3 separate regions of the Homo sapiens genome follow, and regions 2 and 3 are each linked to region 1. Evidence: fine-mapped expression QTL. A gene starts in region 1. Each other region holds a variant in brackets. All regions are shown on one strand. Distances are from middle to middle.

The links.
Region 2: its variant is fine-mapped to the expression of TCP11L1 in uterus (GTEx, PIP 0.95).
Region 3: its variant is fine-mapped to the expression of TCP11L1 in whole blood (INTERVAL, PIP above 0.99).

Annotation. Positions count from the first base shown.
Region 1 is chr11:33,036,154-33,044,334 of GRCh38, reverse strand. It overlaps TCP11L1 (t-complex 11 like 1), which reads right to left and starts at 4,763. Exons shown (of 10, transcript NM_018393.4): 1 at 4,543-4,763; 2 at 399-585. The coding sequence starts at 561. RefSeq lists enhancers at 3,943-4,262, 4,743-5,092, 4,813-5,360 and a silencer at 4,363-4,762.
Region 2 is chr11:33,900,716-33,908,896 of GRCh38, reverse strand. It overlaps LOC105376621 (a long non-coding RNA gene), which reads right to left. Exons shown (of 3, transcript XR_931176.3): 2 at 2,062-2,288. Among named protein-coding and RNA genes, the nearest start is that of LMO2, 13 kb to the right of the region's middle. The variant G/C (reference allele first, on the strand shown) is at 4,327.
Region 3 is chr11:33,073,010-33,081,190 of GRCh38, reverse strand. TCP11L1 (t-complex 11 like 1) reads right to left here. Exons shown (of 10, transcript NM_018393.4): 10 at 7,641-8,181. It overlaps LINC00294 (long intergenic non-protein coding RNA 294), which reads right to left and starts at 5,041. Exons shown (of 1, transcript NR_015451.1): 1 at 1,737-5,041. It also overlaps the pseudogene PIGCP1. The variant T/C (reference allele first, on the strand shown) is at 3,130.

The DNA.
Region 1 (8,181 bases):
TAGGGTGTGGTGAACTTACTCACATTTTTTTTTAACCTGCACAAGCACAGTCCTGGCTGGAATTAGCCTCAGACTTTTCAAACACTCTTTCAATACAAGCTGCAATTTATACTCCACCCTCCTATTTCTCAGAGCACTTCAGAGACTGGAGTGTCACTGAGGCTGGAGAAAGACAGGAACGTTCTGGACATTATTCTAAATTGTTAATTTCCCATGCAATTGAAAATCCACAAGTAGCTAGGCTGCCAGCTGAGGAACTGCTATTATTCCTAAATGCTACATTGGCAATGTTATATTATTAGAACCTAGCTCACGGCCACATGCACAAGGAGGCCTCATAAAACCGTCACCTGAAAACAATGACAATATTGCATCTAACCAAAGTCAAATTTGCTTACAGTGAGGTCTCTGCACTCTTTGGGGGCTGGAGGAGTCTGACTTTATTGCTTTTTGTAAGGCTTCATCAGCACCTTCCACAGCATCTTCGAGGCCTTCCTCAGAATCATTGGATTTTGATTTTCCTGCTTCATTTACATTGGACTTGTCAAGGTTTTCAGACATTCTCAATTAAGTTTATTCACTTTCCTAGGAAAGAAAAAAACAAAAAAAAAGAACTAAAAGTATTCTAGCTCTGTCACCAACTAGCAATGTGACTCAGGGCAAATCATTTAACCTCTTTGGGTTTCAGTTTTCTCGTTTGTAGAATAAATGAGCTTGCTAAGATCTTATCCAGCTATATTCTACTTCAATGACTAAACAGATACTTGTAAAATGACATTTGTAATTTATCAGATTTCTGGATCTCACGTAGTAGTTAGTTGGAATATTTTTGTCCTACTCCTAAGTAGCATGTTTCAAGAATACAGGGCCTTAAACTATTAGAAGACACACTCTAAACTACCTGCTGCTACAATTTTAATCAGTGATTCAATCTTAAATTCTTTACTTTCATTCCTAAGAGCAGATAGGTAAACTCCTTGGAAATAATGCTTTTAATTGGGCTTACAAGTGAATACACTGGGCTAAAGGGTTGATTCCTTGATATTATCATGTGAATAAGATACCCAGAGATGACAGAAACTAGAATTTTTTTTTTTTCCAGATGGAGTTTTGCTCTTGTTGCCCAGGCTGGAGTGCAATGGGGCAATCTCAGCTAACTGCATCCTCCGCCTGCTAGGTTTCAGCAATTCTCCTGCCTCAGCCTCCCAAGTAGCTGAAATTACAGGTGGGTGCCACCACGCCCAGCTAATTTTTGTTTTGTTTTGTTTTGAGACAGAGTTTCGCTCTTTCATCCAGGCTGGAATGCAGTGGTGCGATCTCAGTTTACTGCAACTTCCACCTTCCGGTTTCAAGTGATTCTCCTGCCTCAGCCTTCTGAGTAGCTGGGATTATAGGCGCCCACCACCATGCCTGGCTGATTTTTGTATTTTTAGGAGAGATGGGGCTTCACCATGTTGGCCAGGCTGGTTTCGAACTCCTGACCTCATGATCCACCTGCCCTGGCCTCCCAAAGTGCTGGGATTACAGGCGTGAGCCACTGCGCCTGGCCTAATTTTGTATTTTTAGTAGAGACGGGGTTTCACCATGTTGGTCAGGCTGGTCTCGAACTCCTGACCTCAGGTGATCCACCTGCCTCGGTCTCCCAAAGTACTGGGATTACAGCCATGAGCCACTGCGCCCTACAGAAAACAGAATCTTATGAAATGTTTAAGAGGAATGTGTGGGGCAAATATTTTTATTACCTTCTTGCCAGTAATTAGGAAAAAGATTGTGAGTAAGAAGCTGCAAACAACCATAATGTATGCAGTTGGGTGGGCTTTTTATTAGTTGCTGATCAGAATAGCAATAACACTTGACACTGTGCTTTGGAGCAGTTAATAAAAGGTCTGCCTGGGCCTCCCAAAGTGCTGGGATTACAGGCATGAGCCACCGTGCCCAGCCTAAAACAGGCCTAAAACAGGCGGATCATGAGGTCAAGAGATCGAGACCATCCTGGCTAACACGCTGAAACCCCGTCTCCACTAAAAATATTAAAAAATTGGCCTGGCATGGTGGCGGTGCCTGTAGTCCCAAATACTCAGGAGGCTGAAGCAGGAGAATGGCATGAACCCGGGAGGCAGAGCTTGCAGTGAGCCGAGATCGCACCACTGCACTCCAGCCTGGGCAACAGACTGAGACTCTGTCTAAACAAACAAACAAACAAACAAAAAAACCCTGTTTTAATTACAGTAAAAGTTTTAGTCAATTCCTCCACTCTCCCTTTTCCTAGGGTGTTTCTGGGAGAGAAGACACAATGTTTCTGCATTTGCTGAAAATAATTAACATTTGTAACATCAGCACTTGAAGATCACAAAACATTTTCATAAACACTAATTAGACTTTCTTACACACATGGAAGGTAATCAGGTGATCAAAAGAAATGTCAACTGATTTAGGGAGTTTGGCAGACTGTGTTCTGCATATTAGAGAGAGGTGAAGAATCACCTGATAGAATTATGTGAAATTTCAGAGAACTCCATTAAATAGAATGAAGTTACTGGGATTGAAATATTCAGGCCTGTTTTTTTGTTTTTTTTTTGGGGACAGACTCTTGCACTGTTCCCCAGATTGAAGTGCAGTGGCACCATCTCGGCTCAGCTCACTGCAACCTCTGCCTCCCAGGTTCAAGGGATTCTTCTGCCTCAGCCTCCCCAGTAGCTGGGATTATAGGCGCCCACCACCACGCCTCGCTAATTTTCGTATTTTTAGTAGAGATGGGGTTTCACTATGTTGGCCAGGCTTGTCTCGAACTCCTGACCTCTAGTGATCCGCCCGCCTCAGCCTCCCAAAGTGCTGGGATTATAGGCGTGAGCCACTGCACCTGGCCCAGGCCTGTATTAATATGAAAGTTGTTTTCATGTATTTTCCCTTTCGAGACCCATCTTAGCTTCCAACACCCCACTGGAGACACCCATCTCCTCTGTGTCCTAAATCCTATTAGGGTCAGGAAATGCTCCAAGATCCAAAGGATAACATTACCAGCATATTCTGTGAGAAACGACAAACAAAACGCTGCTAATTTTATTATCTTCACATGCTGAGAAGGAGCCCAGGAGGGATGAAGTAATTCATTCTGTGCAGTGAGGAGGAAAGGGAGGATTTCTAGGTCTCTAATGCTCAGCTTAGTAAACTAACCCCATCCTTAAGATTGAGTTCAAGTCCTGTCTCTTCCCAGGACACTTCCCGGACCTCACCAGTGATTGCACCTTTCTCAACTCCTGCAGGGCTGGCTAGTTGACATTTGGCATTTGTCACTGCCTTAAATTCAATTCAAAGCGTGCTTATTTAAATAGAAAGATGCAAATACATAGTCTAGAGGGGGAGGCAGACAGGCTTACAAGGAGCCATAATGAAACTTAAGTGGCATTATGAAATTGCCCAGGGAATATAGCAGAGGAAGAAACTAACTCTGCCTGGGAGGAGATTGAGAAAACCTTCCCAGAAAAGATGACATTTGAACTGATCTTTAAAAGGAGTAGGATTTCACCTAGTTAAAACATGTCTGGAGGGGGAGAGGAGGGGGAGAGGAGGTGAAAAGGAGGGCATTTCACTCAGAGGGCAGAAGCCAAGGCACAAGAAAATGAGAAAAGGAAGTGGCTAGAGATGATGGAAAGATGCGTTGGGGCCAGATGGTAAAAGTGCTAGTTTTTATTTTAAAATTCCCCACCTAGATTTCGAACTTCTTAAGAGCCAGGACCAGTCATATTCCCCACTTATGCTCCATCTGTATATCCCCCAAATAGACACCCACAAGTATCTGTTGATAGAGATGAATCCCTACGTCATCTCTGTGATGTCACTGTATCTGGGAGGCTGGGCGTTGGTTTCAGACATACCTGGGCCCCAATTCTGGCTCTTTACTAGCTGTGTAACTTCAGTGTCCTCCTCTGTAAAACACAGCTACCTACCTGCTCGGTTTGGGGGGAGATGAAACGAGGGATTGTGCACGGCAGGCCTTCTACAAATGGTAACTCTAATTAAAGGGCTCTAGGATGCGGCCACGAACCATTTAATTTGCTTATATCGCGCGCATCCATTCAACCCCCACTGTGTCTAAAAAGAGAGCCGAGGGGAGGAGGATCCTCGCACTTGCCAAGAAGACGGTCATCCGTCGGCGCTGCACGCGGGCCTAGGCTGGACACAAGAGGCTCCCCAGCAGAAAGGGTCTTTCGGCAAAAGAAAAAAGGGGCTCTGTCCCCCGGCGCCGGGAATCCCCTCCTCTGGCACTGAGCTCCACTCGCGCCCGGCGTCCGGATTCCGTTGTAAACAGCTGTTCAGGCCAGCGAGGGAGTGGCAGGGCCGGGAGTAGGGGAGGACGCGGGCGCGCCGAGAGGACAGCCTCGAGGGGTGAGCTCCACCCGCCCGCGGACCCCGCCTCTTCCTCGCCTGCCCCCGACATCCCGGGATGGGATCCGACGGGAAGAGGCGAAGAGATGCCTGCGACTTGGACCGCGCGCCTCCCGGACGGGCCCCGCCAGCCTCCGCCCCAGCTCCCGCTCTCACCTGCCACGGAGTCGGCGTTCTCCCTCCTGCCGCTCCCGCCGCGAATCAGGCGCGGGCTGGCGCCGCGGCGGAAGCCGGAGGGATGCGCGGCAGGCAGGGGCGGTTCAGCCTCTGCCCCTCCGAGGCCGCATCCCTCGCCACGCGGCGGGCGGTCCTCCCAGCCCGACTCGGGTGGGCAGCGGTCAGAGCGGCCGCTTCTCAGCATCAGGAAGGAGGAGACTGCTCTTGGCCGGGAGGCGCCAGCCCAATATAGGGCAGCGCCATGTCTTCGTACGGAAAGGCGGGAGGGTCTTTCCCCTGCTTGCCGAAGGGGTTCAGTAAGCGGTGACTCGCAGCTGGGCGGCGCCGTGTTTCCTCAGGGAGAGGTGGAAAACATGGCCGATGACCGCTCAGGGGGCTCCGTGGCCAGTGGCTCCCAGCCAAGAGTCGCCCGCCGCACGCAGTGAGGCGCCATGTTTTCGTACGGAAACGCGAGAGGCATGGCCGAGTGCCCGCCGATGAGTCTCAGCTGGCGGTGGCTCGAAGCTGGGGATGGCCCGCCCCTAGGCGCCATGTTTCCATACGGAAAGACGGAACGCGCGCCGCATCCCAGCCGCTGGTGCGGGTGACGCGAGGAGAAAGGGAGGCGGAGAAGGCGCGGGTCAGTCAAAAGAAGGAATAAGAAGCCATTGCATCTGAAACCTTCCCCGCCCGTTCTTTGAAATTTAATTTTGCCATCCTGTTTGTAGCTACACAAAGTTTATTCCCCTTCTCTCATTTCCTCAGCTTTAAAAAAAAGTTAGTCCGGGCGCAGCAGCTCACGCCTGTAATCCCAGCACTTTGAGAGGCCGAGGCGGGCGGATCACGAGGTCAAGAGATCGAGACCATCCTGGCCAACATGGTGAAACCTCGTCTTTACTAAAAATACGAAAATTAGCTGGGTGTGGTGGCGCGCGCCTGTAGTCCCAGCTACTCGGGAGGCTGAGGCAGGAGAATCGCTTGAATCTGGGAGGCGGAGGTTGCAGTGAGGCGAGATCGCGCCACTGCACTGCGGCCTGGAGACAGACCGAGACTCTGTCTCAAAAACAAACAAACAAAAAAAAACTACAAAAAAGCAGATGGGGTGACATTGGTGCTTTCAAACACTGCTTCTAAATAGATCACATGTGGGTAGTTATTGCTAACGTATTGAAGGCCGAGTGCAATACCAGACCCTCAAACCATTTACTAACTTGCACATTAAAGTCTTTGCTTTAAAAAAAAAAAAAAAAAGACAAAAACAGAAGTTCTCTGGTGAAGATTCACTTTTTGGAGGAAAAAACACCAAAAACCCTTAAGATACTCAACTAAATGGAACTGTTAAGATCTACAAAGAATGGCTGGGCGCGGTGGCTCACACCTGTAATCCTAGCTCTTTGGGAGGTCGGAGGTGGGTGGATCACAAGGTCAGGAGTTCGAGACCAGCCTGGCCAATATGGTGAAACCTCGTTTCTACTAAAAATACAAAAAAATTAGCCGGGCATGGTGGCATATGCCTGTAATCCCAGCTACTTGGGAGGCTGAGGCAGGAGAATTGCTTGAATCCGGGAAGCAGAGGTTGCAGTGAGCCGGGATCGCACCACTGCACTGCAGCCTGGGTGACAGAGTGAGATTCCGTCTGAAAAAAAAAAAAAAGATCTGCAAAGAAAACATGCAGTTCTTCTGAGTCTAAACTCGTACCATTAAGTCTCTAGTGTTTTTCAGCCCTGACTACAAATACAACTTGGAATCTCAGGGGCAGGGGTTGGAAAAGTATCATCCAAAACTCCGGGGAGGGTGATGCCAGACAAGTTTTAAAAGCTCCCTGGGGAAGCAGGCTAGAACCTTCCTTAAAAGATTAATATGGCTGGGTGCAATGGCTCACGCCTGTAATCCTAGCTCTTTGGGAGGTCGAGGCGGGCGGATCACCTGAGGTCAGGGGTTCAAGACCAGCCTGGCCAACATGGCAAAACCCCGTCTCTACTAAAAATACAAAAATTAGCTGGGCATGGTGGCAGGCGCTTGTAATCCCAGCTACTGGAGAGGCTGAGGCAGGAGAATCCCTTGAACCCAGGAGGCAGAGGTGGCAGTGAGCGGAGATCGCACCCCTGCACTCCAGCCTGGGAGACAGCGAGACTACATCTCAAAAAAAAAAAAAAAGGTTAATATAACCAATTTTCACTTGGTTAGGAGCAAGTGAATGAATATACTCAAGTTCCACCTGGAGAGGATACTGCAACAATACCAAAATCACTGATTTAATTTGGGATATTTCACTTGTAATCTTTTAATGTTTTGTACTGTTTCAATATTCAAAAAATACATATAGACACATTCCATTTTGATCTTTGGCTGCAAGGACTGGAAATTCAAATTACGTTAAGGTAAAGGGAGTTCACTGCAAGGACATAGGACTTGGAGGGAGAAAGGTGGCAGCCACTCTAGAGGTCGGCTACTGCTCCTGTACACACAGGATCCCTCTTGTCACATCTCTGCTTGCTGTAGTCCATTCCACTCTTTATGCTACAGGCTGGTTTCTGTACTTTCTTAATTGACGCGCCTCATAATTTAAATTTACCTATATAGAATTTGATTGGCCAAACTGATTTTTGAACAAAGTTAGTCTCATTAGCCTCCAGGGAAGCTGCCCTTGGATCAGGTGCTCAACCTTGGTCTACTCTGCTAGGATGATGGCAAGACTTACGGTCAACTAGGCATTAGGTGTCTATGTGGGAATGGGTCCCCAAGAAGGCGTCATGGGTGAATGAATGAGAGCACACAGCAAAAGATAATCAACAGTTCTAGTGACTGAGGAGGGTTGCCCAAGGCTTTCAAGGTAGCACTGGACCTGTAGTTTAAAACCTTGACAATGGTTGCAGTAAACATGATCGATTTTTCTTTTTATCCTCCTTATAAGGCCTAAGGTAAATTGATTTTACTAGTATATTTTCCCTGAAATTATCATTCTATTAGAATGTTGCTTCTCCTAGAAGCATGAATGTAACTAAGCAGTTCTGCCTTCCCCTGAAGGTTGTCAAATAAATATGCTATTCAATTATGTGCAAAATAAAGGTTACAAATCAGATAGCACACGGTTGCTCTGCCCACCGTGCTGATCTCACCACAGTTCCAGTAGCTTGTTTCTGAAAACTTCCTCTCACATTTAAATCATAAACTTATCTTCTTTTTCCCCTCACTGTAAAGAGAGCTGCCTTCCCCTTTTTTTTTTTTTTTTTTTTTTTTTTTTTTTTTTTTTTTTAAGAGGGAGTCTTGTTTTGTCGCCCAGGCTGGAGTGCAATGGCACGATCTCGGCTCACTGCAACCTCCGCCTCCTAGGTTCAAGAGATTCTCCTGCCTCAGCCTCCCGAGTAGCTGGGATTACAGGCACCCGCTACCACGCCCAGCTAATTTTTGTATTTTTGGCAGAGACGGGTTTTCACCATGTTGGTCAGGCTGGTCTCAAATTCCTGACCTCAGATGATCCACCTGCCTCGGCCTCTGAAAGTGCTGGGATTACAGGCGTGAGCCACCACGCCCAGCCCTTCCATTCTTACCTATCCAAAAAAACGGAGTTATTCCCTGAGTTATTAGAACTGGTATCATAGGTATTTTATAGATATTAGTCCTCAACCTTTATCTACT
Region 2 (8,181 bases), 860 kb before region 1:
GCCAGGAGGTCAAGGCTACAGTGAGCCGTGCTTGCGCCACTGCACCCCAGCCTGGATGACAGAGTGAGACCCTGTCTCAAAATAACAATAAAAATTTAAAAAATCTCAAATTTTGGTGTCCATAAATAAAGTTCTAGTGCACACAGCCACGCCAGTTTCTTTCTGCATTGTCTGTGGCCACTTTCCTGCTCAGCAGAGCTGAGTAGTTGCAACAGAGACCACATAGCCTGCAAAGCCTAAAATATTGACTTTTTAATCTTTTACAGAAAAAGTTTTCTAATGCTTGATTTAGAATATATGCTTTTGAGTTGGGATTACTGTATAATAGGATAGGCATTTCTAACGGTTTTAGTAGATAACATCAGTTCTTCAAAGTGGCTGTGCCACTCTGCATTCCCATTGGCAGTGAATGAAAGTTCCTATTGCTTCATGTTCTTACCAACACTTGGTTTTGTCAGATTTTAGACCGGGTGTGGTGGCTTATGCCTGTAATCCCAGCACTTTATTTATTTTTATTTTATTATTATTATTAATGTTATTTATTTATTTATTTATTTATTTTGAGATGGAGTTATGCTCTTGTTGCCCAGGCTGGAGTGCAATGGCATGATCTTGGCTCACTGCAACCTCCACCTCCCAGATTCAAGTGATTCTCCTGCCTCAGCCTCCCGAGTAGCTAGGATTACAGGCACGTGCCACCGTGCCCAGCTAATTTTGTATTTTTAGTACAGATAGGGTTTCACCATGTTGGCCAGGCTGGTCTCAAACTCCTGACCTCAGGTGATCCATCTGCCTCAGCCTCCCAAAGTGCTGGGATTACAGGCTTGAGCCAGCATTATTTATAATAAGGGACATTGAAAACAAATGTCAGGCAATAGAGGAATGGATAAGAAAATTATGGTTATGTTCGGATGATAAGATACAGTACAGTTATGAAAAGAAAAATTACAGCAATATGAATCAATGATTTTAATACAATTTTAAGTGAAAAAGAATGGAGTGCAATGCTACAGAAAAAAATTATATATGTGGGAAAAAATAGATTCATTGGAAAAAAGTACCGGAAGGAATATATTGTAATGGTAACAGTTGTTACGAATATAGGTGATTTTTTCTTTTCTTCGGTTTTCCAAACTTTCAGTTCTGTGTTTATGTAAGTTTATAGTAAAGACATAAGTAAGAAACCACTTCCTATTGCTGACTGGCTTCTGTTTTTCAAAGTACTTGCCATGCGCCGGTCAATATGCTAAATGCTTTACAAGTGTGATCTCATTTAATCCTCAGAACCCTTATGGGGTAGTGTTTTAGGTTATTATCTTCTTACGAATAAGAGGAGGAGAAGGAAGCTTAGAGAGGGGAAAGAACTTGCCTCAAGGCACACGGTGGGAGGCAGAGTTGGGGCGTGGATGTGAATCCGTCAGGCACCACAGCCTGTGATCTTAACCCCTGTCCCAGCCCGCTACCACTTGCTACAGAACCGTGGGGTCTTTCCGGGGAAAGTGGGTTCAAGGATGGCTAAAGTGCTATTCTGCCTAGAAGAAAGCAGGTCATTTAGTCTCTAGACCCCTCCAGTTTTCTGACTCTGATTCTCAGCCCCATCCGACACTAACTAGCTGGGTGATCTTAGATAGCAAACCTATTCCTGCAGAACCTCGGCTTCTTCTTCTGTCAAATGCAATAAACAGACCTCTCCTCATAGGTTGTTGCATTGATCAATGAGAGGATATACAAACCCACATCCTACAAAAAGGAGACACTTTGTGAATTTATTTTTCTCTACTCAAGGACACAGGAAACTTTAAAAAAGCCCCAGGCTTTTTCTGTCACTTGGCCTCTGGTTATTGTCCTGGGTGTAATGGAGTGGAAAACTCTATACACGGCTCCCTCTGACAGTGAATTTCTAATCTCGGAAAACTTAATGGTTTTTGTCAACCTGATTGTCCAGTGAGAGTGGATTAGGAGAATGACTTCCCTTGTCACTAGAAAGTTGACTTGCTTCACAGCATTTTTCCTGATGCCGGTGGGAGGCATGATCGATACAACACAGACCTCAATACTTACCTGTGGTTTCGGAAGCTGAGGACAAAGGTTGGGAGTTCCATTTAAGTGCCTTCAGCCATTTCCAACTAAACCCAGGCGTGATGTGCATTAAGCGGTTCAGGCTGGTGACCCGGAGCTCCACGGTCTGAGGGGCAAACCAGAAATCTAGCAGTTGCTTTTTCCTGACCAGCGATGCAGAGGCCTCTTGGCTCAGGCTGGATTTGTCTTCTCTGCTCCAGTTTTCCCGTCTGCAGAAGAAAGGCCCATTAGTTACTGTCTGTGCTGCAAGGGAAGGATGGCCTTGCTGGTTTCTATATCAGGACTTACCAGAAACAGTGCATGGGAGCAAAAATGGACAGGGACTACTAATGGAAACTTGGTTCCAAATCCCCTTACACACGGTCAGCCCAAGGCCCAGAGGCCACACGTTGCCTAGGGCAGCTCTTGCACCAGGCTACACTCTGCGGCAGATGGAACTGAGAGACAGACTTCAGTGTCCACCAGAATTAACTCCTGCCACATCCAGGGCAGCCCCCTCTGTCCTGGATGGCAAAACAAAGCCCTATTTTACTTGAAGCACTTAAAATCATGTTGCTTCCTTGGGGAGGTCTTCCCAGGCTTTTTAGGCTAGGTCAGGTCCCCCGCTAGCACTTTCTCTTCACTACAGTCATTATGATTAGAAACAAATGATGATCTATATCCATTAGACCACAAGCTCCATGAAGGCAAGGGTCTTTGCTTGCCTCATTTGCTGCTGATCCAAAGCATATAAACGTATTCAGGACCATAGTATGTGCTCCAAAAATATTTGTTGTATGCTTGGTATTAGTCTGTCCTCACATTGTTATAAAGAAATCCTGGAGACTGGGTAATTTATAAAGAAAAGAGGCTTAAATTGGCCCACAGTTCCACAGGCTGTACAGGAAGCATGATGCTGGCCTCTGCTTGGCTTCTGGAGAGGCCTCAGGAAACTTACAATCATAGTGGAAGGCGAAGGGGAAGCAGGCTTGTCTTACGTGGCCAGAGCAGGAGCAAGAGAGGGTGGAGTTCTCACAAGAACTCACTATCGCCACGATAGCACCAAGGTAGACGGTGTTAAGCCATGAGAAACCACCCCCATGATCCAATCACCTCCCACCAGGCCCTACCTCCAGCATTGGGGATTATAATTTGACATGAGATTTGGGTGGGGACACAGATCCAAACCATATCACATATTAATTAATAAACCAATCTAATTACTTGTTTATGTTCGTCTCCCTTATTTGAGTAGAAGCCCTATGGGGGAAGGAACTGTGTCTTATTCATCCTGTATCCCTAGGACCCAGACAATGCCTGGCATGTAGTAGATACATCATAAACATTGGAGGAATAGTAAAGTACTTAGAATTTTTATGTTGAATTAATGTAAAATTGATAGTATGAATTTTAGTTATTTAAGTACTAACACTACAATAGTTATTATAGAAAAAGAGAGTAACAGACCCGTCTTCCACTAACGTCACCACTCTTAGACAACTACTTTAGTTATTTTGATGCTTTCTTTTTCAAAGTTTTTCATTTGTGTATTTTACACACAATTTTAATCCGGTTATTTTAAGTACACATGTGCACACACATGCACACACACACACAGAAACACACATCAACAACTGCCCAGGTGGCAGGGAGTTTTGTGGATTTAATGGCAGGAAGGGAGGCCTAGTTGAATAATGTCTTTCTTATTGTTATAATTAATTATTGGCCCTACAATGGAATTGATAGCATCATGGGAACCGCGACTGAGAAGTATTGCTCTCTAAATGTTCACCCCTGGGGTCAAGGCAAATCTGGCTATGGAAAAAAATGTGCAGGTTAGAAATAATCCACAGGAAAATGCTCAGAAATCAGGGAAATTTGCTATGGCCGCGTCTCAACATAAACCACTTACGTAAACTGCAGTGGGCTTCGTGGTTCAGGATTCATTCCTCAGCCTTTTTTGTTTGGATCATTATGTGGAAATCAACCCAGTTTCTGTCTTTAAGCCCCTAGTGACATGTTGCCAACAGTGACTTCTAGGTGATTATAAAAGTGAGGGAACCACCGTATAATTGAAAAAACAAATCTAATCAAAATTCTGGTCTGCTATATTCAAAACACAATTCTAAAGGCTAGGAGGGAAAGGGTCTACTTCCCGTAAGGGGCAGCCTGTAATAGTAGAAAGCCTCTTAGCTGACAAAGAGAACTTGTGCAAACTTCTTGTTGATAAATAAGGTAGGCAGAAAGTTGAGTGGACAAAAGACTCAT[G/C]TATTGGTGGGGGACCACTTCTGGGGTTGGATAGAGGCTCTGTGTTAGTTAGAGGTAAAGAGGTATACTTTGATCTTGCTCTTTTGTGTTTTTTTTTGCCTTTTTCCGACCTGGAATAGAAAACAGGAGTAAGGGGTGAGGAAGGAGCCGATCTGAGGTCATTAACACAGCACTCCTCCAGGAGATGGTTTACATGGCAGGCAGAGGGACCAGGTGTTAGTTCTAGCTCTGCGCTCACTTTCATGTGTGAACCCTTCTCGGTCCTAGGGGTGATGATGACCTCATGCCACCTTCACAGACTTGTAAGGACTGAATCAGACCCTGGCTATAAAAGCACTTTGAAAAGCACATAAGCAAATGTTTTTAAATGAAAAGTGAGGTGCCAATGTTGCAAGAGGAAGCCATACTATTGAAAAGCCCTCATGAGGACTTTTAACATCCAAGCTCCAGCAGCCTTATAGGAGATTCGTAAGTTGAGAGCTCAGGGATTTTTGCATTCTGGAGGCACCAAGAGATAAGGGAGTAGGGTTTTTTTTTAAACATACAAAGGAATGCAAAAGTTAACAGGCACTTGATAATAGCTGAGTTTAGTGGGAAAAAACATCAGTATATGTTTCTACTTCCTGAAATTTTCCTTTCTATGATATTTATGTATTTATAAAACAAAAATGGTAAAAGAAGATGGCTAGTCATACAAACATTCTAAGAAAGTCTTCTAAGGCTAAAGAGTGATCTAATAAACAACATATTTTAACAGGCTCCATTTGTTTTTACCTTATGAATTGACTTATCCATTTAATAAATATGTATTGAGTATCCACCTAAAGATATAAGAAGGAAATAATTCACTTCTGTAGGGTGGGGATTATACTATCAAATCTATTGGGCATTGCAAAGACGCACAGAACAGACTAAAATGAAATTGCAGGCTCAAAGTGCCATTCAAATTCAGAAAGGAAACACTGCATGGTGTAGCAGGGACTAATAGTTGCTCACCAAATCCATATTTTCCTCTCCTTCCTGGGCACAAAGATAAACTATATTTCTCAGACTCCGTTCCTTTTTTTTTTTTTTTTTTTTTTTGATAGATGAGGTCTTGCTCTGTTGCCTAGGCTGGAGTGCAGTGGTGCAATCATAGCTCACTGCTGCCTCAAGTCATCCTCCTTCCTCAGCCTCCAGGGTCACTGGGATTACAGGTGTGAGCCACCACAGCTGGCTCCGACTCTCTTGCATTTAGCTACAGCTGCGTGACGGAATTCTATCCAATTGCACGAGATTGGAAGTTTCGTTCATCACTTTCAAGTCTGGCCCATAAAGGTTTCCCACACACTGCTCCTTCATGCTCCTTCCCCATCCAACTGGCTGGAATTGAGAGGACCTCACACGTTGAAGACAGCAGAGCCTCCCTCTCCCTGGATCTTTAAACAGTTACACGGGAGAAGCCTGCCCTGCCAACTGTTCACCAATCCAGTACTATTAGGGGAAAAGAAGTGAACTTCAAGGATGTGGAGTCATTATATATTTTGAGATCCCTTGTTTAAGCAGCTATTCTAATTTAACTAAGACAGCAACTAATTCTTCAACTTTTACATCTGTAAGATGGAAGGAATGAGTAGTAGTAACAGATATTTAACAGCAATGGATGCTTTTGCTATTTGTCATAGACAAAAAAGTTCAAAGGGTTTGGGATTCTTTTTATGATTGTTCCAGGGGCTGTCTTCTGGGACAATTGGTAGGATCATCTTTACACTTTTCTTTGCCTTGGTTCTTCCATGGCAAGATAGATAGATAGATAGATAGATAGATAGATAGATAGATAGATAGATAGATAGAAAATAGATTTTTTTGAAGGTAAAGTATAACCATTATGCTCTCTAAAATGGCGGCAACCAATTGAACTCCTTCATTGGCAGGTGGAGATATTAAAGCAGGATATAAGGCATCAGGAAAAACCTGGTTTTCTGTATCCCTGGTCATTGCTCTGCCAACTCACCCCTGCCCAGGTATTTATAGTAATGTCAGGCATCTTTAGCCTGAGCCTTATCCAGACACAAGGCCAATGGTATCATGGCTTCATGGTACCACAGGAACTTGCTCTTTATTAATGAGCACATGCGGTCTGGAAATAGGCTATTTTCAGCTGCTTTAGCCTTTGATTAGGATGCTGTTGGTTAATAGTGATAGAAAACTCAAATCAAGGTGATTTAAGCTAATAGAGAATTTATTGATCCATGTAACTGAAAACTCCAGGGTTAGGGGCTGGCTCTAGGCACAGCTGGATTCGAAGGCTCCAACGATGTCATTAGGACTTGGTCTTCCTGGGCCTCTCTTCCTTGCCCTGCTCTATTTCATCTTTCAGTCTTGGCTCCATACGGTGGCAAGATAGCTGCAGCAACATCAGCTACCCAAGGTGACCCTTCTCTGAACCAATCCCAGTGGCCTGGGAGGCACCATGCTTTGATTAGCCAGGCATGCTCACGTGGCCTACTCTGGAAGTTGGATGTGGGAACTCCACCAAGAACACAGGGACTAAGAGTAAGGAAGGAATGGCTTTCCAAGGGACTATCAAGGGGGAGAGATGGGTGCCAAGGAGCCAACCATGCCAAGTACCAAGAGATGAGGGGGTGCTATGTTCAGATTGTAGCTTTGTGCTGCACCTTTACACCTCCCTGCTCTGGTGGTGCTAACCCACCTCCCTGGCCCTTCTAAATCCTGGGAAGGGGGACTCAAGTCCTTATTCAGAACTCCAGCAGCAGGCTATAAATCCTGTCCCACTTGCCTGAGCCCTTTCAGCCCCTTCACTCAAGGCTAGTTTCCAGATTACCCTAACCTGGAGCTGGCGCCATGTCCTGCAGGAGACGGGAGAGGGCAGAGGGCAGCTTCGGGCTCTTAGGTAGAATTTCTTCTTTTTAAATTTTAATTATTATTTTTTTGAGACAGAGTCTTTCTCTGTCTCCCAGGCTGGAGTGCAATGGTGTGATCTTGGCTTACTGCAACCTCTGCCTCCTGGGTTCAAGTGATTCTCCTGCCTCAGCCTCCTGAGTAGCTAGGAGTACAGTCGCACACCACCAAGCCTGGCTAATTTTTGTATTTTTAGTAGAGATGGGGTTTCACCATGTTGGCCAGGTTGGTCTTGAACTCCTGACCTACATTGATCCTCCCGCCTCGGCCTCCCAAAGTGCTGGGATTACTGGTGTGAGCCAAAGAGCCTGGCCTTACATAGAATTTCTGCCTATGGATCTCACTTTTCTCTGCATTAATACTTACCGCTCTGTTTTCTGACTCTGTTGCCATCAATTCCCCATACAACTTCCTGCCTATTCCATCAGGTTGGGCTCTGTGGTTATTGTCACCTGCCTAAATTGCACTTGGGTTTTACTCACACTCCTTTGGACCTAACTGTCAAGTTCTCAAGAGAGAAGGTCCCATCTCTTTGGTCTTATCGCAGTGAATCCTTACACCACCACCATGAAATGGGCATTATAATTCCTACCTTTTACAGGTAACAGAATAGAATAGAATAGAGGCATGGCAAGCTAAAATAACGAGTCCATGGTTACACATCTGGCAAGGGACAGAACTAGGATTCAAACACAGCCGGTCCGACACTAGGGGCTGTGCTCCTAACTTCTACATGATAGTGCTCAGTTTTAGGGGGAGAGGCTCAGGTGTTACAAAGGGCTTACCCAGAGTTGGGGAACAGTCCCAGGTAGACTATGCCAAACCAAAACAGAACCATCACCAGGAGTTGGCAATGAGTTGTCAGGCTGTCCTAACCTAGAGATTGGGCTCAGCCAATGTCACCAACAGGGAGGAACTCAGACCAGGAACACAAGGGCTCAGAATCCAGTTGCT
Region 3 (8,181 bases), 37 kb before region 1:
TCAGTCCTACAATTCCAAGGACTCATATCAGTATTGCTGGACCCAAAGAAATTGCCAAAAGATATCCATCTTTTTCCTGTTTATAAAAGCAATGACAGCATCTCCTCAAGATTCTAGAACTAGACAAAAGTTTCAAGGACTATATGTATGTCCTTCCTAAACAAAAATTAGTCAAACTCTGGCCTTTACCACTAAACTTCAAACAAGAGGTTGCACCTATGTGGCCACATCTAGTACAGTAAAAGGTTAATAGAAACTACTAGTAAACTTTCTGAACAACCAAACTGTACCAAAGAAAAAGAAGGAAAAACACATCATTTCTGTTAGTATATTGACCCTGGTCAATAATTATGAATTTATTTGATATTATAACCCTGTATTGGCCTATAGTTAATAAATGTTGAGTTCAATTTTATTAAACCATAGTCATCATGGTCATAAATTATTATTATTATTTTTTTTAACATGGTAGTTCTTTGACTGTGGCAATGAGCAAGTGAACTTACGTTTTACTTAATAAAAATTTCAGCCAGGCACGGTGGCTCACATATATAATCCCAGCACTTTGGGAGGCCAAGGCGAGCAAATCACCTGAGGTCAGGAGTTCAAGACCAGCCTGGGCAGCATGGTGAAATCCTATCTCTACTAAAAATACAAAAATCAGCCGGGCATGGTGGCGCACACCTGTAATCCCAGCCACTCGGGGAGGCTGAGGCAGGAGAATTGCTTGAGCTTGGGAGCTGAGATTGTGCCACTGCACTCCAGCCTGGACAACAGAGTGAGACTCCATCTCAAAAACAAACAATCAAAACAAAAGAAAACAAAAATTTTCATAAGTCTTTTTGTTTGTTTTGAGACATGATCACAGCATAATCCTCCCACCTCAGCCTCCCAAGTAGCTGGGACCACAGGCATGCACCACCATCCACCATACCCAGCTAATTTTTTAAATTTTATGTAGAAACAGGATCTACCTGTGTTGTCCAGCCTGGTCTTGACCTCCTGGGCTCAAGCAGTCCTCCCACGTCAGCCTCCCAAACTGCTGGGATTAGCCACCATGTGAAGCCCTTCTTTTTTTTATTTTTTATTTTCTTGAGATAGGGTCTCACTTTGTCACCCAGGCTGGAATGCAGTGGCATGATCTTGGCTGAATGCAACCTCTGCCTCCCGGGCTCGAGCAATCCTCCCACTTCAGCCTGCTGAGATGGGAGCACAGGCCTATGCCACCACGCCTGGCTAATTTTTGTACTTTTAGTAGAGACAAGGTTTTGCCATGTTGCCCAGGCCGGTCTAGAGTTCCTGGCCTCAAATGATCTGCCTGCCTCGGCCTCCCAAAGTTCTGAGATTACAGGCGTGAGCCACCTTGCCCAGCCCCTCTTGTTTTAAGGTTACTTTTAAGTCAAGAAAAGTGACACTCCATCGAACCAGGCCTATAGCTTAGTTCTGGTTCTTAAGTTCGGTAGGCAATAAATGTAAGTCAGGTGTGACAGAAACCCACATGAGGGACAGTTTTAAGTAGAATTATATGTTTAGACTTTTAACACATATTTTGTAGAACTCTGGCTATTTCTGAAAGTACCAGTGAACACTTGATCGTTTAATAAACAGAGCTTACCTGGGCTTAAAGATTATCCCCTTCCCCACCCATTGAAGTTGCTTTGAATACTATGACTAAAAAGGCTTTCCATTAAAATAATTATATAATGCAAAATCCAATATAAATACACACTTGCAAATATCATTGTAGTTATTTATTTAGATTGTTTTTAAATGAGATAGTGCCTTTAAATATGACTTCATAGCCCATTATCCATTACCATTCATTCATCCACTCATTTGTTCATTCATGAATTCATTTAGTTCAAATAATATAGAGGTGGAGATGGGGAGAAATCACTGGGGTGGGGGTGGATGTCAGGAAGTAAGCAAATGTAAGACTGCAGCTCTAGTATAGAAGAGATGATGAACATAAACAAGTCTTAGGAGAGGACAGGAAGAAAACCTTCCCTGTAGGCCCGTAAAATGTGCTTGAATGAAGGGAGGTTGGGCGCTACCAGTGGAACGTAACACCACAGCAAATGTGCGCCCACAGGTAGAGGGTTACATGTTCGCCTTTGTAGTTAAAAAAGAAAGGTATAGTCCTTTTCCATGTACAAAGCATTCTATCATTCATTACCAAATGTAATCCTCACAGCAACAGTGTGAATTAGGAGTGTTCCCATTTAACAATGAAAATGCCGAGGCCTTGGGGAGAATGGCTGGTCCAATGTTGTACAACCGGTAAGGCGGCGATAGAGGAGAAAAGACTAAAACCCAGATCTTTCTCTAAATTAGGAGCTTTGTGCACAATCCTGCTACCACCAAATGTTAGAATCGGAAGGGAGCTTAAAGACCAAGTCTAGTCCTTTCATTTTAAAGGAGTTGGGAATGGGCCCTGATTTGCCCCAGCTGGTACATAACAGAGTGGAGATCCAAGCCTTGGTTTCCTGACAGCTCCCAGTCTTTCCACTCTACCACCTGGCCTCAAAATGAAAAGAAACACAAATGTTCTACCTATAAATCAGAGCTCGCCAAAAGGTCACTAGAAATCAAACAGCAAACACCTATTCTCTTTGAAATTCACCAGCAAAGCTGGTGGCAGCAACATTTCCTCTATTCCCAGGAATCTTAAGGCTTTGGAGAAATGAGAATAAGCACCTCCACAAAAACAGAACCGCTGAATAATCCATTTAGAATCTTGGCCAGTATGTGCATACTATAGGCCTATTAAGTCAAACTTATTAATAGCTTTTCTTCACAGAGAAAAAAGTTCATATATACCTACTGACTGCATTTGATCAGTAAGATATCATGTCAGTGTCCTTCTTACCTGAAGTACATTTATGGCTGGGTCATATCGTGACATAAATAATCACATTTTGTAGCTTGCTTTAGACGGAATGCGATTTTTTTTTTTTTTGAGACGGAGTCTCGCTCTGTCACCCAGGCTAGAGTGCAATGGCGCAATCTCGGCTCATTGCAACCACCACCTCCAGGGTTCAAGTGATTCTCCTGCCTCAGCCTCCCGAGTAGCTGGGATTACAGGCACGTGCCACCACACCCGGCTAATTTTTGTATTTTTAATAGAGA[T/C]GGGTTTTGCCATGTTGGTAAGGCTGGTTTCGAATTCCTGACCTCAGGTGATCTGCCCGCCTCAGCCTCCCAAAGTGCTAGGATTACAGGCGTGAGCCACCGCGCCCGGCTGGAATGAGATTTTTAAAAACACCAGGACTGAGAATCCATCCACCCAACCAAGAGCCAACAAAGTAGTAGTTACTTTAAACATTCACTTATCCATGAGACTACTGAAGAAATCCAAGAGGCTTGGTGATACTGACCTCACTCTCAGTTCTATCCACAAGTAGTAAAGTACTGCCAAATACACTTAGCAATTTCAGGAAAAGACACTTGTCTCCACAACCTGTTACTGAATGCAGCATATAGAATCCATTCGATTCTGGAGGACAACACACTCCAAAGGATGTTTCGTTTTGGAAGGAGAGCTGTAGGGGAAGGTACAGGGGGATGCTTAGCAATGCTTCCTGAGTGACTAAATGAACGAAGTGGATCTCCCTGGCCCTTAGTAATAATCCTATGAGATTCCAGGAAGAAAATTAGCTTATCTTCATAGAGCAACAACAAAATGATTCAATATGAATATTGTGGTTCTGAAGTTTGCTTCCTTCATTCTTGACTTTTGCCAGTTGCAGAACTCCACCAGTGGACACCGAGGTAGTGGGCGGCCAAGAGTCTGTGAAGCCAGTTATTCATGCATCAAGATTTCAAACGGTCCAAATGGAACTCTGGCAATGTAAGAACTCAGGAGGGGAAAAATATCTTGCAAGAATCTACTCTTACAAAAGAAGAGTTTTTGAGATTTAGGAAGAATGACTGCAGGAAGTGGTGATCAGCGCTGTGCAGTTGGGGTTAAGCTCCTCTCCTTCAGCCTTGGAGCGGCAGGAAAAGGCCCCAAACACTCTGAGGCTGAGGCTTCTCTGCCCAGGAACCCAGGATCATACAACCGCCAGGCACAGTGGCCACAGAGCAGCCTCCACCTTAAGGGAACAATTCCAGACACGACCTCATTGAATACACCATGGAAGATGTTATCTTCTTTAAAAGTACCCTCATGGCAGGGCGCAGTGGCTCACGCCTACAATCCCAGCACTTTGGGAGGCCAAGGCGGGTGGATCACGAGGTCAGGAGATCGAGACCATCCTGGCTAACACGGTGAAACCCCGTCTCTACTAAAAATACAAAAAAATTAGCCAGGCATGGTGGCAGGCGCCTGTAGTCCCAGCTACTTGGGAGGCTGAGGCAGGAGAATGGCGTGAACCTGGGAGGCAGAGGTTGCAGTGAGCCGAGATCGCGCCACTGCACTCCAGCCTGGGCGACAGAGCAAGACTCCATCTCAAAAAAAAAAAAAACCCTTACAAGGAAAAAGGCAGGCAACTGCCATCTCCCAGTCACGCATCCCCAGGAACTTGGCTGTATTATATCCTGCCTCAGAGACAAACTCATCTATTGTAGGCCTGGCCTGGATTGCTGCCTTTGAAAACAAGGAAAGGTCAGCAGAATATCAACCAAGGCATGGAATTTCCAGGGAGGTCTCATTTCAAAATGTCATCAACAAGAACCACATGGACCTCTGTGAGAGGGATGATTAAACTAGCCTGAGTTTGAATGAAAGGATTATGTGTACCCAACCTGTAACAAACACCAAGGAGGTAAAGTGGCAGAGGGTCTTGTATGAGCAACAGCCCTTTCCTGATAACTTTGTGGACCGGCGGTTCCTGGAAGAGCTCTGGAAAAACATCCATGCTCGGAAATACCAATATTGGGCTATGGTATTTGAGTCCAGTGTGGTGATCCCGCAGCTGTGCAGTGTTTTTGTTTTTCTGGTTATCTGGTGGTATATGGATGAGGGTCTTCTGGCCCCCCAATGGCTTTTTGGGACTGGCCTGGCTTCTTCACTGATTGGGTATGTTTTGTTTGATCTCACTGATGGAGGTGAAGGGCAGAAGAGTGGGTGGACCCGGTGGGCTGACCTGAAGAGTGCCCTAGTCTTCATTACTTTCACTTATGGCTTTTCACCAGTGCTAAGACCCTGACAGAGTCTGTCAGCACTGACACCATCTATGCCATGTCAGTCTTCATGCTGGTAGGCCACCTCATCTTTTTTAACTATGGTGCCAATGATGCCTTTGTATCCACTGTATCCAGCACACTATCCTTGAACATGGCCATCTTTGCTTCTGGATGCTTGGCTTCCACCTTCCCCAGTCCCTGCATGTCTTCATCATGGGAACACTTGCCATCCAGATTTTTGTCCTGTGGCTCATGCTACAGAAGAAACTAAAGGCACGGACTCCCAAGGGCTATGTGGTGGTCACACTGCTTTTTGCCTTTTCGGTCTTGGAAGGCCTACTGCCTATTAGTGCTGTGGGAGCCGTACTCTTTGCCCTTCTGTTGATTTCTATCTCATGTCTCTGTCCATTTTACCTCATTCGCCTGCAGCTTTTTAAAGAAAATATTCAGAGGCCTTGGGATGAAGCTGAAATCAAGGAAGACTTGTCTAGGTTCCTCAGCTAAATTAGGGACATTCTGATAGACTAGCCTCCTAACTAGTATAAAACTTAAAGACAGGCCGGGTGTGGTGGCTCACGACTGTAATCACAGCACTCTGGGAGGCCCGAGGCGGATGGATCACGAGGTCAAGAGTTCGAGACCAGCCTGGCCAACATGGTGAAACCCCGTCTCTACTAAGAATCCAAAAATTAGCCGGGCATGGTGGCGCGTGCCTGTAATCCCAGCTATTCAGGAGGCTGAGGCAGGAGAATCGCTTGAAACCGGGAGATGGAGGTTGCAGTAAGCTGAGATCGCGCCACCACACTCCAGCCTGGGTGACAGAGCAAGACTCCGTCTTGAAAAAATAAAAAATGAACCAAAGGCTTGGGTGGTGAGGGTGCTTATCCTTTCTGTAATTCTGTGGATGAAAAAGCTTTCTGGGACCCTCTTGAATTATTCGCTGTAACAAATGAAGTGATGTGGTTTCTATTAAAAAAATAATAATGCATTCAAACAAACAAAAATAAATAAATATGAATAAAAGTACCCTCACAAAATGCAGCCAGTCTGCCAGATTACAGTGACCCAGATTCTCCAGTCTCCTGCCTGGGACCCAAAAAGATACATCTGGCTCTACTTTTTTTTGTTAAGGAGAGACAGGGTCTGGCTCTGTCACCCAGGCTGGAGTACAGTGGCATGATCATAGTTCACTGCAGCCTCAAACTCCTGGGCACAAGTGATCCTTTTGCCTCAGCCTCAGCTTGTAGCTGGGAGTACAACTGTGTGCCACCACAACAGGCTAATTTTTTTTGTATTTTTTGTAGAGACATGATCTCACTATGTTGCCTAGGCTGGACTTGAAATCCTGGGTTCAGATGATGCTCCTGCCTTGGCATTCCAAAGTACTGGGATTATAGTGTAAGCCACCATGCCCAGCCCTGTTTTTTGTTTTGTTTTTTTAATTTATCACATCATTATAGATTAGAACCAACATCAGTGCTGATCTGCATACATGTAATTTCTACCTGAGTTTCTATAGCCAGATCCAAGTCCTTGTATAAACCCTGGGACCATCAGCAATCTCAAAAATCCTGAAAGCAGAATGTATTCTGACTCTACCAGGTCTGAAATCCTTCTCATGGAGTATCTGATTTCCTCCCCATCAGTCCTATTGGAATACCTACCCAACTGCTTCTTCAAGTCTTCCTTCAAAACACAAAATCACTGCACTTCCTTACAAAGAAGGATCAGAGAAAACAGCTGCTTGCAGTAAAATGTAGCCCTTCCCCCTGGTTGTGCAGGAGTGGCTGCTGGCCTTCCTGGAGTCTTTCTGAAATGGCTTCCAAGTTTCTTTTCTTTTTTCTTTTTTTGAGACAGAGTCTCACTCTGTTGCCCAGGCTGGAATGTAGTGGTGCTATCTCAGCTCACTGCAGCCTCTGCCTCCCGGGTTCAAGCGATTCTCCTGCCTCAGCCTCCCAAGTAGCTGGGATTACAGGCGCGTGCCACCACACCCAGCTAATTTTTGTATTTTTAGTAGAGATGGGGTTTCACCATGTTGCCCAGGCTGGTCTCAAACTCCTGACCTCAGGTGATCTGCCTGCCTCGGCCTCCCAAAGTGCTGGGATTATAGGCGTGAGCCACCACGCCCGGCTAACTTGTAAGTTTCTCTTAGCTTCCTGTACAGAAGGCTTCAGGTGCCGATATTACTGCATTACTCATACAGTAATATAGTCTTACCCCTTGCTGTTGTGGCAGTTGGTCATTCCAACTTCATGGCTCTGCTTCTAATATAACATCCCTGTCTAAAATGCAGACATACATGTGTACACTTTAAAAAAAAAAAAAAAAAAAAAAAAAGAACAGATCGTCTATGAGACCCAAATCACTCACGCTCAGAGGACATGTCAGGAATTCTGGTCACTGAAGTTCCTTGAAAAATAATGCTCAAACACCAGGGATTTCCTATGACTTCCTCATCTAGGAGATTCGTGAACTCAAGCTATTTTATCTGAAAACAGTTAAATCTAATTCCAGAATTTAATTCAATCATCACATCTGTGTATTGTCTCAGGGTCAATTTTTCAGTAAGAATTCCAGACATTTCTCTTCGTTCACATTACAGTAAACTATTTTTCAATACATTTCCTCCTTGACTTTCAAGGCTTGAAAGTCAAAGACTTTCCTTTCACTAGATCTCATAAGTCATAACTGCTCTCAACCAGATGCAGGAGTAATTTTGTATAAAAGAACAAGCTTTTTAAAGTCCAATAACTGTATCTTTGGGGGAAGGTTAAAAGAATGTTTAAATACAAAAAAGAAAGTAAAAAAAAAAAGAGAGAGAGACAAATAACTCTCCTCTAGAAAAAAGGGCTTGGGAGCCCTGGCTAGGCCAGGCAGGGAGGAAGCAATAAATAGGGGGAGAAAATGGCAATAAGACGTTATATAGCCCTTCTAACAAAAATACCAGAAGGGAGGGGTGAGGGACAAGGCTGTCTGAGGGAGGGCAGGAGGTGAGGCCATGGCTTGGTCTCTTTTGCGCTTGGATGGCCGTCAGCTCAGCATGAGGCATCTGAAAGA